Linked DNA regions of Homo sapiens. The protein of the gene in region 1 interacts with the protein of each later gene in a pairwise test. Each region holds a gene or a part of one and is shown on either strand. Other genes may lie near its edges.

Region 1 (5,108 bases):
CAAAGAGAAAAAGATAAATATTTCATTTCTGTTTATAAAAGTATCATCAATTCAAATGGTATGAAGTATAAATAGCTTGAGAAAAGAGAAAAGAGTTCCTTAAATTCAGAAAACAGGACATTAAAGAACCAGTACTGTTTCAAACAAAGGCCATAACAAATTATAATCACCCTTTCTTAGTCTACTGAGGCCCATATAATTACTTCTTGTTCTGCTTAACTTTATGAGGGGTCTTATGAACTCCTCAGTGTCTCCACTATAGTTCTGAAAATCTTTAATCAGTCTTGTGGTATGTTCTTTTTTTTTTTTTTTTTTGAGACAGAGTTTGGCTCTGTCGCCCAGGCTGGAGTGCAGTGGCACCATCTCGGCTCACTGGAAGCTCCACCTTCCGGGTTCATGCCATTCTCTCGCCTCAGCCTCCGGAGTAGCTGGGATTACAGGCATGCGCCACCACGCCCGGCTAATTTTTTGTATTTTTAGTAGAGACGGGGTTTCACTGTGTTAGCCAGGATGGTCTCGATCTCCTGACCTCGTGATCCGCCCTCCTCAGCCTCCCAAAGCGCTGAGATTACAGGCGTGAGCCACCGCGCCCGGCCCCTTTTCTTAAAAGTATTTAAATAATGACATCAGAAGGTTGCATCCCAGAGTACCTGTTATAGTCATTTCCGTGGGTCTCAGAGGGAATCCCGTTTTGTAAAGACAAAGCATGCTATCCAGTAGCTGCTTCCAAGAGCTTTCAGGAAAGCATCAGAGTAAGATATATATATATATTTGCAGTGACTTTATTTCTTCATCACATTACCTAGGGTAAATTACATAATTCACAAGAATTTGACACTGTTGTCATCAGCCACATCTGAGTGGAGCATTTGCTTCTTAGTTTGGTATTAATAGTAACTACCTATGAATGACAAAAAGCTTAAAATGGCTATGTTAAATATCTGACGTGAATTCATTATAACACAGTTGACAAAGGATTTTGGTGGTTTCTGTGGAATACAATATTTAATTTATGGAATTTAAATCATAGAATTATGACTGACTACATTATACCAGGACGTATCAGGGAGATCAAGGTTATTGACCAATTCCTAGGAACTTCATAAAATTTCTGAAACAATAAAATCTACCCATACAAATATAAGGAAATTTAAGTAACTCTTCTTATTTGACAATGCTTCCCATACATTTTAACATATCAAATGAACCTAATTAGTTTAACATCTCTCTTTTTACAAAGTGAGAGAACATGAATCCTTAGAGATTTTCCAGGGGCTCTCTGAAAAATCTAAGTTGGTTTGGGGTCAAGCAGACTTCATTTAGAATTTGATTTTTGCAAATTGTCAAAAATGTCAAAAGATTGAACACTGCATTAAATAGGATCACAGGTCACTGTGAAACAATACTTTAGTTATCCACTTACTTAAGTGACAATACAAGATTTCAAAAGTAAGTATACGAGGTAACATACTTGCAGAGAGAAAAACAGCAACAACAAACAAATAAATTAAAAAAAAACTCAGTTTTTTTTTTTTAAGTGAGAGGACTTGGTTCTCATAAATAATTAAAGATGTGATAAATGTTAACATAAAGCGTAGGAAATTATTCTGATAAGACACAGAATGTTTTCTAGGCAGATTACTTAACAGGTAAAGAAAAAGTTTTATAATTTCTTATTAAGGGCAGACCAGTAATCCAAGAAAACTTTGTTGTTTTAACAGAGAAAAACCAAACTCTAGTTTTGAATCAGTAATCTTTTGATATACATTTTGTCATTTGAAAGACCACCAGGATGGCTAAATAGTAGAAAGGAGAGCTTTATTGGCATTAACTTGCAAATTGAGAAGAGAAACTCTCCAGTGTGGATCTAAGGTGCTCTTTATTTAAAGAAGGGAATGACAGGTTAGGTCTTATGCCTCACAGGGCCTGTATTATACATATTCAGCATGTTTTGGGGGAAAAGCTATATGTATTTATGAGAGGGCATGCCCAGTGGGTAAACATGTGTATAACATACATCCCATGTTCACTCTGACGTGAGGTTTTAGCATTGAAATGACATGGAATTCAGCTCTTTATGTCAAAAGGTGAACTGTAGTACACAAAGACAGTTTGTGTGCAGTCCCTATAAGCTGGCTGAAACTGGCTTAAGTTCTGCAATAGCTAATCAGAAAAGAATATTTGTAAAGTCAGTCCTCTGTCCTGCAGAGTTGTGGTGGTTTGGGCTGTAAATCAGCCTGAGAGCTCTGTTGTTAAGAAGTTTAGCTGAGGTGTAGTTTTCCTTATAGTGGTAGGAATTTGGAAATTTGCCATGCCATCTGGGTCCTGAACACTGGACTCCTAAGTAACTTTTGTTTCCTTAGCCTTAGGCCCATCTTGTTTGATAAATGGGCATCAATTTTGATCCCTCAGATCACAAGTCTATTAAAACAAATTTTTATAAAGAAACCCATTCAAATGTAGCCAGCTTTGACCAGGCAACATAAGACTTATTTTCTATAAAACTTCTACAATTTTTCATATCAATGCAATATAAGAGTTATTTCCCACTAACATTCTAAACTTTCAGGAGTTATTTTTCTGGTGGTGGTGGTGATGGTGTGATGCCTCACAGGAGGATCTAGAAGGGCAAAATACCAGCACCTGGAGTAGAACAAAGGAGGAATATGTGTTCCACATTAGATTATGAACAATTTATGATATATTCTTCATAAAAATACAAAAAGCAGGTAGCTACTATTCTTAACTTGACAACTTAGATCACTTTCCTGCACAATAATCTTCCTACAAAGAGCAGTATGGGTTTATAAAATTATTGGATACACTGCTTATGGAAGATGTGATTCCGAAGGGTCATCCCAAGTAGCAAATGATGATCTTCCAAGGAGAGTAGGGTCAATTAACTGCTGTTTTCTTTATTTTATTGAGCTCCATAATGAGCTAGTCATGTCACTCTAGGAAATGTCACTCAATGACCATATTATTTTGCTTAATAGAGTTGAAAATTATTTCAGTTCCCTAGGAAATTCTAGGTGTAAGGAGAGGGTAACACAAAAATAACTGAATGGGAATCAACATAGGAAGTAATAGAAAGGGACAGTGTCAAGAAATCTCTGATTTAATTATTTCAGCATGTATGCCCAAACCAGCTGGCCCCAGAATAAACAAGCAGCTTGCACCTTAGCAGGACCCAAAGAGAAAAGAAATCTTTACTACACCTCATGAGAGTATTTTCATTCAGTGTAGTGTTGCCTCTCCTCCCCAAACTGATAATTGGGCACTAAGAAAAGCTCTCAAGTTGAAAAGTCCTAGGTAGAGTTTGAAAGTATCCTTAGAGAAGTGAAGAATGGATTTCCAGGCTGCAAGGTGCTATTATCAGAAGTATTTGAGTAGGTGAAGGGTATATATACAGGAACGCAGGGATGCCTTCCCATCTCTTTCATGGATCCTTCATCTTTTAAAACAATGAGCATTTCTAATCAAGTAAACACTCACATTAACATGGGTTATACAGTTAACTCACATGACATCAACAGCAAATTTGTTCTTTTTTAAATCCAGGTAAGGTCTATTCATGTCATGTCTCTAATCTCTACATAAAACCAAGAATTACATGTTTAGTTTTATTTTTTGAAATTTAGTGAAGTAGCTGCTGGTTGTTTCTGTGAGGGACAAGAAAGATAAAACATAATTAATGTTATTTATGTTAACTTTTCTGCCACATTTTACATCTTGAAATTCTAAAAAATGCAAATCTGCTTGCAAAATGAACTGGGTCTGGATCTGAATTGGCTGAAGCTATTTAAGTCTTCTAACCACAGTTTCATAATCTGAAACATGTGAATATGTACAAAATGATTTTGATTAGAGATGATATGTATAAAATACTTAGTATACATTAACAAAATATATGGATCACATATTGATTTGCTGTACACCTGCACTGAATTAACCAGGTTTCAATAATGGCTTGGGCACAATACTAGGAAAAGTCTCTTCCAATAGAAATGTATTAGGTTGGTGCAAAAGCAATTATGGTTTTTGCCATTAAAAATAATGCCATTAAAAGCAATTAATGGCAATTGCTTTTCCACCAACCTAGTATTATTGGTTAACCAGAAGTTACGTAGCCCATGCAGAATCAATGCCAGCAAAATGTTAAACCACCCTTTAATATTCCCCTGTTGACAAAATAAATAAATAAAGGCAGCAAGCGATAGAAAAGCTGTGGGTATAAGGCTTGCTGATAATCTGGGCTGGTGAGAACATAGACTTGGAAATAAGCCTTGACTTGTATAGTTACCCTACTTTTTATCACAATCAAGTAACCTTCCTAACTTCTCAAAAAGTGGCTAGAAAGTTTTAGTTTTCTTAAAGAACACAGTGATAATCTTTCACTTACCATCTGCAAAATGCTGAACATCAAGCACAAAACAATTCTTCCCTTCCAGAATGTAGTCATGTAGACTACAGTGTTAATGGCAATTCTGTGACTTATTTTCAGGGGTTTAGCATTTTCATTTAGCTGATTAAAATCTGTTGTAGATGATAATTATGCCGGTTTTTAAAATCATTCAAACACTCAAAAATGATTTTAAAATCTTTAAATGGCTTGTAGCAGATTTTTATTTCTCAAAGGGTTTCTTTGAGAAAATTATGGAAGCAAATTATGGAAAATTTGCTTAAATTATACACCTTTGTCATATTCTCAGTAAATGTTAAATCAATGTAAAATGAGTGGATTTGTATTTCTAAAAATAACCTTTTTCACAGGAAGAAGAACTAAGGAAGAGTGGGGAAGCCAAATATGCCCACTTGAGTGATGAGCTTCATGTATTAATTGAAGTGTTTGCTCCACCTGGGGAAGCTTATTCACGTATGAGTCATGCATTGGAAGAGATTAAAAAATTCCTGGTTCCTGTAAGTGTCTTTCATTTTTTACAAAGATGTTTCTTATCAGCTTCTATTTTAAAATGCACCTTTGATCTTCACTGACTTTTTAAAAGGAAACTCATATTGCAAACCAATGATCTATCCACAGGTCGATACAAAGCTAAAAAATAAAATAGGATACCAAAACCACTTAACACAGGACCTGGCGTGTTGCC
Region 2 (4,384 bases), on another chromosome or scaffold:
GGAATAGGAGTAAAACCCTCCTTTACCCGATAAGGGATACCTACAAAAAAATTAACATCATATTTAATGGTAAATGTCAAAACCATTTTCTTTAAATTAGGAAACAAAGGTGTCCACTATTATCACTTATGTATAACATTCTATTATAGAGGCCAGAATGTCAGGCAAAAAATAAATAAATAAATAAAGACTAAAAGTAAACAAAATTAGTAATTATTCAATGATATGAATGTCTACATAGAAAGTACAAAAGAATTTACAGATAATTACAATCATTTCAATGAAGTACACTGCCAAAACAAGTAGTTACTACTTTAGAGGAAGAAGAGTCATTACTAACTGAAATATTTAATTCCATTACCTTGACTAGAATCAGTAGTGTCGGATTTCAGGGAAAGTGGTTTTGCTCCATCTTTAACTTTTTTCAAACGGTTCTTATCTCCTGGTAAAGTCAATTTTTGCCTGAGTGGTTTTAATTCAAATGCCTGAAAAGTTTTGACTTGTGTTTTCTCCTCAGGAGCTACTTCTTTACTTGAATCCTTTGTAATACTGACATTATCAGTGCTAGTTTGGTCCTCGAAGTTCAATGTTTTAGGATCTTCCTGCACATTCTCTTCTTTGCTACTCAATGCTAGTTTTTCATCCTTATTGATGCATTCTAGTTCCAACTGTATTTGTTTATACTTTAAAAGCAAATCTTCAAAAGTTTCTTCCACACAGTTTTCATTTTTTGATGAATAATTTTGTTTTCTTGATGGAGACCTTCCAAAACTTTTGGCTGAACAGCATATTAAGGAAACCAGTTTCCAAAAATTTTCCACAGTTAAATTTAACAAAAAAACTTAGATTATAGATGAATTTTCTCCCTTTTTAATTTTTCAAGAAAAATGAATCGATATTTTTAAATTACTAAATTCCATTTAATGTATGTGCAGCTAATGCCCACTTTCATTACGTGCCCATATTTGAATTTAGTAAGTACCATATAAACAGTCCACTTACAAAATCACTAGTGTCATAATTACCAGTAGTATCCACAGACAGTCCACCTAGTTAGGTTATAGCATCATTCCTTCTGTGCCAGGAAAGTCCATAATTAGCTGTATGTTAGAGATTATTTTCTGAAGGAAGAGGGGAGAAACTGAATGCTTTGTCACAGATGCGGATAGTTTACACTTCAGGGGGCCAGGCGCGGTGGCTCACGCCTGTAATCCCAGCACTTTGGGAGGCCGAGGCAGGAGGATCACTTGAGGTCAGGAGTTTGAGACCAGCCTGGCCAACACAGTGAAACCCCATCTCTACTAAAAATTAAAAAATTAGCCAGGCGTGGTGGTGCAGGCCTGTAGTCCCAGGTACTTGAGACGCTGAGGCAAGAGAATTGCTTGAACTCAGGAGGCGGAGGTTGCAGGGAGCCAAGATCACACCACTGCACTCCAGCCTGGGCAACAGAGGGAGACCTCATCTCAAAAAAAAGAAAAAAAAAAACACTTTAAAATAGTACTCAAAATATATCTATTTTTCTCCTACAGACAAGGGAAAATGTTATGAAAATAATCTGAAGCAACTGTTCTTACTTTCTTCTCTAACACAGTGATACACAAAAGGTAACTTTTTCCTTAGAAACAGCTACAAAATTTCAAACTACAATTTTTATTCTAAACAATTCATACACGAGAATTGTTATACCTCATTTTTCCAGGCCAGATATTAGCAAGAGAAAAGACAGTACCTCCTGTGGTTTTAATACATCATTTATAGATTTTTTTTTTTTTTTTTTTTTTTTGAGACAGAGTCTCGCACTGTCAGCCAGTCTGGAGTGCAGTGGTGCGATCTCGGCTCACTGCAACCTCCGTCTCCCAGGCTCAAGCAATTCTCCTGTCTCAGCCTCCTGAGTAGCTTGGATTACAGGTGCGTGCCACCATGCCCAGCTAATTTTTGTATTTTTAGTAGAGATGGAGTTTCACCATGTTGACAAGGCTGGTCTTGAAATCCTGACCTCAGGTAATCCGCCCACCTTGACCTCCCAAAGTGCCGGGATTACAGGTGTGAGCCACTGCACCCAGCCTATAGATTATTTTCAGTTGGCTAGGATGTAAAATACAGTACCCCAAATACGGTTCTTCTGTTTAAACACCTCACAGGGCAAGCAGCAGAAAAGGTTTTTAAACTCTCCTGATGACCAGTTCTAAAAATGAGAATTACCATCATCTAAGAAACAAAAATAAGCAATAAGTACATCTGAAAATCTTAACAGTTCTACAGCAAAACTGTTCTAGTAAATCTCTGGTTCTCTGATCTCTTCAAAGCCAAGTATCCTGAAAGAAAACTAGTTTCTCTGTACCCTTCTTACCAAATGGAATCTGGTTTCTGTCCCATTAATCTAGAGAGACTGCTGTGGCTAAGTTTCCCTATCAATGTTTTCAAACTTTATTTTTTTTTACCTGACCCCTCTGAGAATCTGACACCATAAACCACTTCTCTCTTGGCTTCCATAACTCCGCATCTCCCTTTGTTTCCCTATTTGTGTTTTGTCTTTTAAGTCTCCATTGAGTCTTTTCTCTCTAACTTGTGAAATAATGGTGCTCTTCAGGGAGCACTACTTAGCCTCTTTCTCATTTTGAGCATTCTAATGCACCTCCACAGTTTTACCTACCACAGGAGAGTTTACCCTGGTGATAAGATATTTCTCTTATCTCCTACAAGCCATCCTTCATACTGCTGCTGCCAGAGTAATCTTTCTAGAATACAAATATAAGATCATTCCCCTTGTTTAAATTTCCCTAATAAAAAAGTCCAAAATCCTGAGAATAAATATAATCTGACCTGTGCTTTCCTTTCCAAACTTACTTTTTCCTTGTTCATCACAATTTTTGCATAGCTTTGTGTCTAAGTTTGTCTGTTCTTCAACTTAACCCCAATTCAAGTGTCACCTCTGTGAAGCCTGAGTTTCTCACTCTCCCTTCCCCTCTTACACACTCTTTGTATGTAAGTTCTGTAATTATCTGCATTTACATCTTACTTTTCACTGGAGCCATTTAAAGGCACAACTGCAATTAAAAAAAAAAGAAAAGAAAGGGAAATGATTAAATACACTAACAAAAATGCTAAATAGAAAAATAAGGAAAAGCAATTGAGTTACAACTATAACTGACTAATCTCCTTCAAGGCTAAAGAAAATCTATCCCTATCTATACAGAAGCCTAAGATCAAACCAACACTTACCAGATTTAATTTTAAGCTTGTCAAGATACAATTTCTAACTGAACCTTGGTTTAAACAAAAAGAAGTGCTATTCAACCTTTTCAGCTGCAGCTGAAAATGGAATGACTTTTTACTGATGAGAGACACTAGCCTAATTATGTTAGCTCTCCTCAGATTTGAAAGTTTAAAAGAGTAGTCATTCAAGGGAGACATGCTAAGATGTACTGACAAAGTGTCTATCATTAAGAAAAATTAAGGGTGAAAATAAGAACTGCAATTGAATCTAGTTTATTCTATTTCTTTAAAGTTGCAACTAGCATATCTTAGTTATTACAGTGAAAGGAGTTATGGCAAAAATAGAAATAAACCCTATACTCAGGCTACTTTACTTCTAAATTACAGAAATATGCCACAGAGTAACCTGCATTCTTTCTTTATACAGTATTTGTAAAATAAAAAAGGTATTATTATAATCACATAGTGGAAATATGAATTAAACTGAGTACAACCTTGATATTAAATAAATTTGAATGAAGTGTTGTAACAAATATTTTGTTTGCTCACATTATATAAAAGTAGCTGGGAACTACGTTTTCCTTCTCAAATTCTTAAAAAGAACACCACCTCTAGGATGGATTACTGATACTTCATAGGGAAAACAATGAGCAGGACATCAAAACAAGCATCCTTTTAAGTGCAGCATCTGTGAAAAGAAAAACAACAAGATATCTTATTTATGACAAGTTACTACGGAAATCAAAGTCACACAAGCAGACTGGATATTTTCTGGTACTTTTTTTTTTTTGCAACATCATATGCCAGTTTACTAATAAAAACATGCAAGCTTACCAATTAATAAAGGTCTATGGTAGAGGCCCAAAATAGTATTGAATAAACACGCAGAAAGAGGACAAAAGCAGAAAGCCCACTCACCTCCCCCTTTTCTAATACAGAATAAAAATTTTAAGAAAAACCTTTGAGCTCCCATAGTACTTTTTTATATACATACTTCAGTTTCAACTTTTTATACTAAACTGCAACTACTTATTTTCATTTGTTTCCCTAATACAAACTACAGGTTTCATCTTTGTACCTTTAAAAAACACATATAAACTGGTGGCTCTCGCCTATAAATCCCAGCACTTTGGGAGTCTAAGGAAGGAGGATCTCTTGAAGCTACAAG
Region 3 (5,092 bases), on another chromosome or scaffold:
GTTGCTGTACGTTATAGCCACCACCCCTCGGCTTCACACCCTCCTTCCTCCAGTCAAGCCCACCTTCTCCAGCCATGAACTTTTCCAGGAAGCTGTCCCAGGTCCCAGGCTCAGGGTGCGCCTTTTCCATACGGTGGAAATGGTAGTAGGAGACCGCCACGTCCTTTGGGTTTCGGGCAACATAGACCACCTGCAGGGGCAGAGGACCCAGCCCCAGCACCATCACCACACAGCCCACCCCAGGCCAGCTCATCTGTTGAACTGGCAAAGGAGGAACCTGAGGCTTAGAGGCTGACTTGCTTGAGATCTCACTGCACAGGTAGGGCCAAGCTGGGATCTGAACCCTGCTCGGAAGCCAAAGTCCTGCCTGGTTCCTGAGACCATATTCTATACTAATATAATCTGCACCAATGCCATCATATCCTGATCTGGAGCAAGGCATGCCTGGTCCCCACCAGCTCCCCCTCCTCCGCTGACCTGTGAGCACCCACATGCTGCCTTTCTTAAGTGTGCACTGTAGAGACTCACTATCCTTGCATCAGACCCTCATCAGAGCAAGAGGCAGACAGTGTCCTCTCTCAAGATGTGATGAAGGCTGGGCGTGGTGGCTCATGCCTCTAATCCCGGCACTTTGGGAGGCCAAGGTGGCCAGATCACCTGAGGTCAGGAGTTCAAGACCAGCCTGACCAACATGGTGAAACCCCATCTCTACTAAAAATACAAAATTAGCCGGGCGTGGTGGCAGGTACCTGTAATCCCAGCTCCTTGGGAGGCTGAAGCAGGAGAATTGCTTGAACCCAGGAGGCGGTGGTTGCAGTGAACCGAGATCACACGATTGCGCTCTAGCCTCGGCAACAAGAGTGAAACTGTCTCAAAAAAAAAAAGGGCCAGGCGCGGTGGCTCACGCCTGTAATTCCAGCACTTTGTGAGGTCGAGGCAGGAGGATCACAAGGTCAAGAGTTTGAGATCCACTTGACCAACATGGTGAAACCCCGTCTCTACTAAAAAGAATACAAAAATTAGCCGGGTGTGGTAGCACACGCCTGTAATCCCAGCTACTCAGGAGGCTGAGGCAGGAGAATCACTTGAACTGGGGAGGCGGAGGTTGCAGTGAGCTGAGATCATGCCACTGCACTCCAGCCAGGGTGACAGAGCAAGACTCTGTCTCAAAAAAAAAAAAAGATGTGATGAGCCTGGCAGAAGCGAGGAGGCCCTTCCAGAAGAACAGGTACATGGCTGAGAGGGCACCTGAGCCCCCCTTCCTGGCTTTCCTTGCCAGTCAGTGGGAACTTTTTTTTTCGTAGAGATGGTTTTGCTGTGTTGCCCAGGCTGGAGTGCAGCAGCAGGATCATCAGGGCTCATTGCAGCTTCCTATTTGCATAAACAGTCCTCCCCGCTGAGCCTCCTAAGTAACTGGGAACAGTCTATGCCACCATACCAGGTTGTTAATTTTATTTTTGTAGAGATGGGATGTCATCTCTACAGCAATGTTGCCCAGGCTGGTCTCCATCTCTCGCCTTCAAGGGATCCTCCCTCCTCAGTCTCAAACTGGGATGACAGGTGTGAACCATTGAGCCCGGCCTCACCTTGACCTTCTGATCCAACAGAGTCTGAGGGAGCAGAGCCAGGGGCAGGTGTGACTTGATGAGCCGTGGGGGCGGTGTGTCTTTCAGAGTCTCCAGCCCTGAGTAGTGGGTCAGGGAAGGTCTGGTGAGCTGAAGCCCCAGCCCTGTCTTCCTCCACTTCCCTTACCCCCAGGACCCAGCCATGCACCTGAGGGTTCCCCTGGATCATTGACCTCAAGGAAGGGCACCCGTACGTAGATGGGAGCCCGGTTACACTTCTCTAGGTCGCCGCCCTGGTAGATCATGTCCAGTATCTGGCTCACCCAGGTGGTGCCTGGAGAGGGAGGGAGATAGGAGGTGAGCAGGCTGAGGGCACGACCTTGCTGACCAAGGTGGGGACTGCCGCCTGGGAGAGGGTGGGTGGCCCTCCTCACTTACCAGACTTGGGGTAGGTGTTGATGAGCAGGTCATCAGGTCGGGCTTGGAAGCTCTGCAGGGGCCCCAGTGCCTCTGCAAAGTACTTGATGAGCGGGACCCCCTTCACGTACTCCAGTGGCGGGCGGGAGGTGTCCTGGATCAGCTCCATGTTCCTGCATCAGGGGCCAGAGCCAGGCCCGTTCCCTTACCACCATCACAACAGCAAGAAAGTGGGATTCTCTCTTTTTTTTTTTTTTTTTTGAGATGGAGTCTCACTCTCACCCAAGCTGGAGTGCAGTGTGGCACAATCTCAGCTCACTGCAAACTCCACCTCTTGGGTTCAAGCAATCCTCCCGCCTCGGCATCCCAAGTAGCTGGGATTACAAGCATGTACAACCATGCTCAGCTAATTTTTTTTTTTCTTTAGTAGAGATGGGGTTTCACCATGTTGGCCAGGCTGGTCTAGAACTCCTGGCCTCAAGTGATTTGTCTACCTCAGCCTCCCAAAGTGCTGGGATTACAGGTGTGAGCCAGCACCCAGCTGCCCCTTTGCAGAGTTTTTGCTTTCAGGGAAGTCACTGAGGCCTAGGGAGGCTGAGTGACTTGCCCGCACTCACAAAGTCAGTCAGTGGCGGGGCTGGGGCTGAAACCAGGTCGTTCCCCAGCCTGGCCGCACCTTTCAGTCACCTGCAGAGCTGTTCAAAATCCCAGGGCCTGGGGCATAGTGCAGACCAGTGAAAGCACCCTCGTAGCGCGGGGCCCAGATATCAGGGTGTGTGAAGGTCTCCAGGAGAGTCCAGCTGTGCTGAGGAAGCTCTAGGGCCTGCCTGTGCTGTCTCCCTGCCAGCCAGCGCCCTTTGTCTCACCATTTCCTGCTGGGACCCCCAGCCTCCACCCAGTGCGCTCCTCTCCCCGATGCTCCCCTCCTTGAGCCCCCCTCATGCCCCTCACATGTGGAAACCTCCCAGGCCGGCCAGGTCTGTGATCCACTTGCCTGGCCACAGTCCATCTGGGCTCCAGAACAAACACAGCCCATTGAGCAACTAAGCTGGTACCAGGGGCTAGAGCCTCGTGCGGGAATGAAAACTGATGACTCATCAAAAGGAGGGGCCCAGGCAGGGTGACTCCCGCCTGTAATCCCAGAGCCTTGGGAGGCCAACGGGAAAGGATCCCTTGAGCCCTGGAGTTTGAGACCAACCTGGACAACAAAGCAAGACCTCTCCTCTACAAAAAATATTTTTCAAAATTAGCTGGGTGTGGTGGCTTGCTCTTGTAACCCCAGCTACTCAGGAGGCTGAGGCGGCAGGATTGCCTCAGCCTAGGAATTTGAGGCTGCAGTGGGCCAGGATCCCACTACACTCCAGCCTGGGTGACGGAGCAACACCCTGTCTCAAAAATACACAAAGGAAAAGAAGGAACGCAGGGGGATTCCGGCCAGGCTGGGTTGTCTAATTGAAATGGAATATCCATGGGAAAGGGCAGGGATGGCAGAGGCCTCGGCTTCTAGAATGTTGGAGCCACAAGCTGAGCAGGGTGAAGGTGCCCTGGGCCATTCCAACGTGTCACTCACCTGAGCTCTCGGGAACCTGACCTGTTCTCTCCTTGCCTGCAGGGGCTGAGTATGGGTGTGGTGTAGGGAGTGTAGGGCTGCTCTCTGCCCTGAGGGTTTTGAAGGTCCAGTGTGGGAGGGATCTAAAGTCAGGGCTGGGAACTCCAGGAAGGAAGGGGTGGGGTTGAGGGTGGGGAAGCTTCTCTATTACCCTCCTTACCACCACAGCTCCAGCCAAGCTTGGAGTGATCTGCAAACCCAATATGTGAGTTTAGTGTATAGAAAACACATGAATGAAAGGCAAAAGGGGCCAACATTGGTATTTGGGTTTTTTTTTTTTTGAGCTGTCACTAGGCTCCTGACCTTCCCTCTGAACTCCACCCTGCAGGGCAGGCCAACAGACAAGCTTTCTTTCTTTCTTTTTCTTTTTTTTATATGAGATGGAGACTCGCTCTCTCGCCCAGGCTGCAATGCAGTAGCACGATCTCCGCTCACTGTAACCTCCCCCTCCTGGGTTCAAGCGATTCTTCTGCCTCAGCCTCCCGAGTAGCTGGGATTACAGGTGCACACCACCACATCCGGTTAATTTTTGTATTTTTAGTAGAGACGGGGTTTTGCCATGTTGGCCAGGCTGGTCTCAAACTCCTGAGCTCAGATGATCCGCCCGCCTCGGCCTCCCAAAGTGCTGAGATTACAGGCATGAGCCACCATGCCTGGCCGACAAGCTTTCTCTAATTGACCCAGGCAAGGGAGGTGAGTGAGTGGAGGGGAAAGGTGGGATAGGCCGGCCTGGGAAAAGTCACCTACCTGCTGGCTACAGGCCAGTCTTGAAGGCGGCAGGGGTTCTGGCCCAGTGCAGTCCACAGGCCCCCAGCAGCCCAGGCATTCCAGGCTCTGACCACAAGGCCAGTCTGGAGTGATGTGTGGGGGCAGAGTGAAGGGGCAGAAGTGGAGCAGAGCATGGACATATAGAACAAGAAAGAGGCTGAGCGTGGTGGCTCACGCCTGTAATCCCAGTACTTTGGGAGGTCGATGCAGCAGGATCACCTGAGGTCAGGAGTTCGAGACCAAGCTGGCCAACATGGTGAAACCCTGTCTCTACTAAAAATACAAAAATTAGCTGGGCATGATGGCGGGCATCTGTAATCCTAGCTACTCAGGAGGCTGAGGCAAGAGAATCACTTGAACCCAGGAGGCGGAGGTTTCAGTGAGCCAAGATCACACCACTGCACTCCAGCCTGGGCAACAGAGTGAGACTCTGTCTCAAAAAAAAAAAAAAAAAAAAAAAAAGAAAGAAAGAAAGAACAGAAAGAATAAGAAAGGACAAGGACACTGTAGTCCCATTGCCCTAGGAGCCAGCCCTAGCTTCATGGCTCCTGGGGGACCTCACAGAGCATCAATAGAAGATCCTAGAAGAAAAACAACCCTGGCAGGTGATTTTCTTTCCCTGGGTTTGAAGGAGGCTCCGTAGACAAGAGACTAGAGGAGATTAAGACTTGGAAGCCACAGGGCCCCGTGGAAGGAGGGCATCCCCCCATCCTCCTTGGTCTTTGTCCTATTT
Region 4 (4,384 bases), on another chromosome or scaffold:
TAACTATGTTCCACAAAAGATGTAGGCAGAGTAGTGTGTTCCAAAGGTACTTAGATTAGTGCTTGTTTTTAAAATCAGTATAATGAAATTATCTGTTTTATATATAGTTAAGCTGATTTATGTCTGCTTTATTCCATTATAGGGATTTTCCCCCCATCTTCATTGACCTCCTCAGGGTTTTATTTTTTATTTTATTTTATTTTTTTGAGGTGGAGTCTAGTTCTGTCACCCAGGCTGGAGTACAGTGTGACTGTTCAAGCAATTCTTCTGCCTCAGCTTCCCGAGTAACTGGGATTACAGGTGTGCACCACCACACCCAGCTAATTTTTGCGTTTTTTTGTTTTGTTTTTTGAGACGGAGTCTTGCTCTGTCACCCAGGCTGGAGTGCAGTGGCGCGATCTCGGCTCACTGCAAGCTCTACCTCCCGGGTTCACGCCATTCTCCTGCCTCAGCCTCCCGAGTAGCTGGGACTACAGGTGCCCACCACCACGCCTGGCAATTTTTTTTTTTTGTATTTTAGTAGAGATGGGGTTTCACCATGTTAGCCAGGATGGTCTCGATCTCCTGACCTCGTGATCCACCTGCCTTGGCCTCCCAAAGTGCTGGGATTACAGGCGTGAGCCACTGCACCCAGCCAATTTTTGCGTTTTTAATAGAGACAGGGTTTTGCTGTTGGCCAGGCTGGTGTCGAACTCCTGACCTCAAGTGATGGGATTACAGGTGTGAGCTACCGCACCTAGCCACCCTCAGAGTTTTAGAGTGAGCTTGGCATCACTATAAATGCACAGTTATCAAACCTTAACCGAACCTCAGAACTGCCCAGAAACCCTGTTGCATTTAATAGTATCTAATCAGCAATACCCTCTTTGAACCTATTCCAGTCCTCACAGACTTTCAAACCACTGGCCTCCACATTCTGGCCACTCCTCATTTCTCCTCCCCTCTTCCATGCAGCTTCTGTGTGAGGAGGTCTTTTACATATTCCCCTCCTGCATGCCACCCTCCAGTGTATTTCCCACGCAGCAGTTGGACCAGTCTTTCAGACATAGATCAGATCATAGTTAACAACTCTGGCTTAAAACCCTTCAGTGATGCTGCTTCACACCCATTACGATGGGTAGTATCAGAATAACCAGAAAATAAACAAGCGTTGTCAAGGATGTGGAGAAATTGGAACTCTTGTGCACTCTTGGGAATGTAAAATGGTGCAGCCACTATGGAAAACAATATGACAGTTCTTCAAAAAATTACCGTATAATCCTGCATGTCCACTTCCGGGCATATACCCAAAAGAATTGAAAGTAGGTCTTGAAAAGATATTTGTACACCCATGTTCGTAGAAGCATTATTCACAGTAGCCAAAAGGTGAAAGCAGCTTGGCTGTCCATTGATAAGATGAATGGATGAACAAAATTTGGTATGTAAATACAGTAGAATATTATTCGGCTTTAAAAAGGAAGGAAATTCTGGCCCGTGCTACAACATGGATGAACCTTGAAGACATTATACTAAATTAAATAAGCCATTCACAAAAGGACAAATTCTGTGTGATTCTATTAAAAGTACCTAGATTAGTCAAATTTGTAGAGACAGACAGTGGATGGTGGTTGCCAGATACTGGGGCAAGAGGGGAATAGGAAGGGGAGTTAGTGATTAATGGGTACAGAGTTTGTTTTGCAAAATGAAAAGAGATCTGGAGATGGATGGTAGGTGATTGCACAACAGTGTTAATGTACTTAACAGTACTGAACACTTAAAAATGGTTAAGATGGTAAATTTTATGCATATTTTACCACAGTTAAAAGTCTTTAGGGAATACTCATTGCTGTTAGGATAAAGAGCACAATCCTTGATGAGGCCTTAAAGCATTCACCCCTTCAATCTCACCTTGTACTGCCTTCCCCGCATCCCTGTGCTTCAGCCACAGTGTCATTCTTCTGCCCTCTTCAGACCTCTTCCCTCTGTCTAAAGTGCTCTCCCTGACCTCACGTAGCCAACTCCTGTTTATCTTTTGGTTACCGATTTAAACGTCAGTTCCTTAGAGAAGCTTCCTCTGGCCCCCAGGCTTACAGCTTCAAAACATTTTAGTAAAATGTTTTTTTTGGAGTCAGGTTTCCCTCTGTTGCCCAGGCAGGCTGGAGTACAGTGGCACAATCAGCTCACTTATAAACAGGCCAAGCAGCCTCAACCTACTGGGCTCAAGTGACCCTCCCACCTGAGCCTCCCAAATAATTGGGTCTACAGGCATGTGCCACCATGCCCAGCCAGTTTTTTATTTTTTGTAGAGATGAGGTCTTTGCTGTGTTGCCCTGGATCAAAACATCATTTTTTAAGCATTTAATCCATCAGATATTTTACATTTACCTTCTTAGGGTTGGTCTTCCCTCCTTGCCTGTGATCTCCTTGAGGGCAGGGTTTGGGTGTCTTCTGCATGCAATAGACAAAGGGAGGGAAGGGGAAGTGAGCCAGGCCTGGCCGGCAGAATGCTGCGCCTCTGAGGAAAGGGGGAAGTGAGCCAGGCCTGGCCGGCAGAATGCCGCGCCTCTGGGTGTTGCACACTCCCTGACACCCTGGCCCCTCTTAGTGGGTAAGGGAGGGACATTTGGAGTGTGGTCTCTTGACTTCTTCACTCTGGACTTCCACTGGGAGAGAAATTGACAAAACCTGTGGAAGAACCTAGGAATTATACTGGCCATTCATGCTCATTAGAGCATTCCGTCTGTTCAGCAATACTGAAAGAGAATTGTGATCCTGTCTCTATTTGTTTTTTAAGTACATTTGTTTGAGGGGTTTGTGTGTGAGGGAGGGGATATGTGTTGTGTTTTGTTTTGTTTTTTGATTACTGTGAAATGAGGGACACAATAGTACTACCTCAGGGTTTTTCTGAGAATGGAATGAGATGTCAGCACATAGAGTGCTTAGCGCTTAGTCCAGCTCTTAGTAAAATACACAAAGGGGAAAAAAATGTGATCACCAGGAGTCATCTCCGTGGAAATGGGCGGTGAAAGCTGAGGTATGGCTCTGCCTCCTGATCAGAGGCCCTGTCTCCCTCCTATGCCTTTCAGCCATAGCTTCCTCCATGTAGCCCTCTTTATTAGGTCATTGTGGCATGTCTTGCCTCTTCCAGCAATTTGTGCTCCTCAGTGAGCAAACTGTGATTTGCTAAGAAATATAAACCTATTGTGTTCCATTCTGCTGTACCCTTTCTGTGTCGGATGAGATGGTAGGCTGTCTTTTGCCACAACCAAAATGGCAGTTGTTCTTTCAAGGCTTAGAAATTGTGTGAGAACTTCTCCTTCAGGACCTGGTGGTTTTTTAATCAGGCCTGAATTTTACACATGCCTAGGGAGATCAGAGGCCTCCCTCTGATCTGATTAAAAGGAAAGAAGACTTGAATTTACCCTCCCACCCAGCTTGGGCAGGCAAGCAGCTCATTTTTTACCCATGGATGTCCAATGGCCCCAACATCATTTGTTATTCCTTCATTGAATTACTTTTGAAACTTTGTCAAAAATCAGTTGTCTGTACATCTGTGGATCTATCTCTGGATCCCTTGTTCTTTTCCATTGATCTCTATGTCTCTTCCTCTGTCAATATTACTCTATCAGTATTGATTATTGTAGGCCTTAATATTGAGTAGAATAATTCCTCCCACTTTTTCTTCGTCAAGGTAGTTGTAGCTATTCTAGGTTCTGTGCCTTTTCTTTTTTTTCTTTTTTCTTTCTTTTTTTTTTTCTTTGTTTGAGACAGAGTCTCACTGTGTCTCAAAAAGGCTCAGGCTGGAGTGCAGTGGTGTGATCTTGGCTCACTTCAACCTCTGCCTCCGGGGTTCAAGTGATTCTCCTGCCTCAACCTTCTGAGTAGCTGGGACTACAGATGCGTGCCACCATGCCTGGCTAATTTTTTGTATTTTTAGTAGAGACGGGGTTTTACCATGTTAGCCAGGATGGTCTCGATCTCCTGACCTCGTGACCCACCCATCTTAGCCTCCCAAAGTGCTGGGATTACAGACGTGAGCCACCGCACCTGGCCTCTGTGCCTTTTCATATAAACTTTAGAGTAAGCTTGTGTATATCTATGAAAAACCTTGCTAGGATTTTGATAGGAGTTGCATTAAACCTATAGATTAGTTTGGGGAGAATTGACATTCTTGCTATGAACATGATATATCTTATCTCTCCATTTATTAATATTTAGGTTTTATTTGATTTCCATCAGTATCATTTGTAATTTTCAACATATAGATCCTGTACATAGCTTGTTATTTGTTTAAAGCAGAAAGGGAGATGATTATGAATGGCATATTCTGTCCTTTGTTTTGGTTTTCAAATGTTCATTGTTAGTGTGTAGAAATGTAGTTGATTTTCCTGTGTTGAACTCTTCT

The links. The genes of interacting proteins can lie anywhere in the genome.
Region 2: the proteins of KHDRBS2 (region 1) and ZFC3H1 interact in a two-hybrid assay, tested with the Homo sapiens proteins (one large-scale study listed by BioGRID).
Region 3: the proteins of KHDRBS2 (region 1) and SULT1A3 interact in a two-hybrid assay, tested with the Homo sapiens proteins (one large-scale study listed by BioGRID).
Region 4: the proteins of KHDRBS2 (region 1) and PSMF1 interact in a two-hybrid assay, tested with the Homo sapiens proteins (one large-scale study listed by BioGRID and IntAct).

Annotation. Positions count from the first base shown.
Region 1 is NC_000006.12:61,977,878-61,982,985, reverse strand, and holds part of KHDRBS2 (KH domain-containing, RNA-binding, signal transduction-associated protein 2), read left to right. Parts: intron 1-4,773; coding exon 4,774-4,920; intron 4,921-5,108. UniProt on the Homo sapiens protein: RNA-binding protein that plays a role in the regulation of alternative splicing and influences mRNA splice site selection and exon inclusion. Binds both poly(A) and poly(U) homopolymers. Phosphorylation by PTK6 inhibits its RNA-binding ability.
Region 2 is NC_000012.12:71,656,524-71,660,907, forward strand, and holds part of ZFC3H1 (zinc finger C3H1 domain-containing protein), read right to left. Parts: exon of another isoform or gene 3,848-4,384; intron 779-3,847; coding exon 362-778; intron 1-361. UniProt on the Homo sapiens protein: Subunit of the trimeric poly(A) tail exosome targeting (PAXT) complex, a complex that directs a subset of long and polyadenylated poly(A) RNAs for exosomal degradation. The RNA exosome is fundamental for the degradation of RNA in eukaryotic nuclei.
Region 3 is NC_000016.10:30,197,788-30,202,879, reverse strand, and holds the start of SULT1A3 (sulfotransferase 1A3), read right to left. Parts: upstream 3,626-5,092; 5' UTR 3,553-3,625; intron 2,156-3,552; 5' UTR 2,152-2,155; coding exon 2,004-2,151; intron 1,900-2,003; coding exon 1,774-1,899; intron 1,685-1,773; coding exon 1,587-1,684; intron 191-1,586; coding exon 64-190; intron 1-63. UniProt on the Homo sapiens protein: Sulfotransferase that utilizes 3'-phospho-5'-adenylyl sulfate (PAPS) as sulfonate donor to catalyze the sulfate conjugation of phenolic monoamines (neurotransmitters such as dopamine, (R)-adrenaline/epinephrine, (R)-noradrenaline/norepinephrine and serotonin) and phenolic and catechol drugs.
Region 4 is NC_000020.11:1,128,543-1,132,926, forward strand, and holds part of PSMF1 (proteasome inhibitor PI31 subunit), read left to right. Parts: intron 1-4,384. UniProt on the Homo sapiens protein: Plays an important role in control of proteasome function. Inhibits the hydrolysis of protein and peptide substrates by the 20S proteasome. Also inhibits the activation of the proteasome by the proteasome regulatory proteins PA700 and PA28.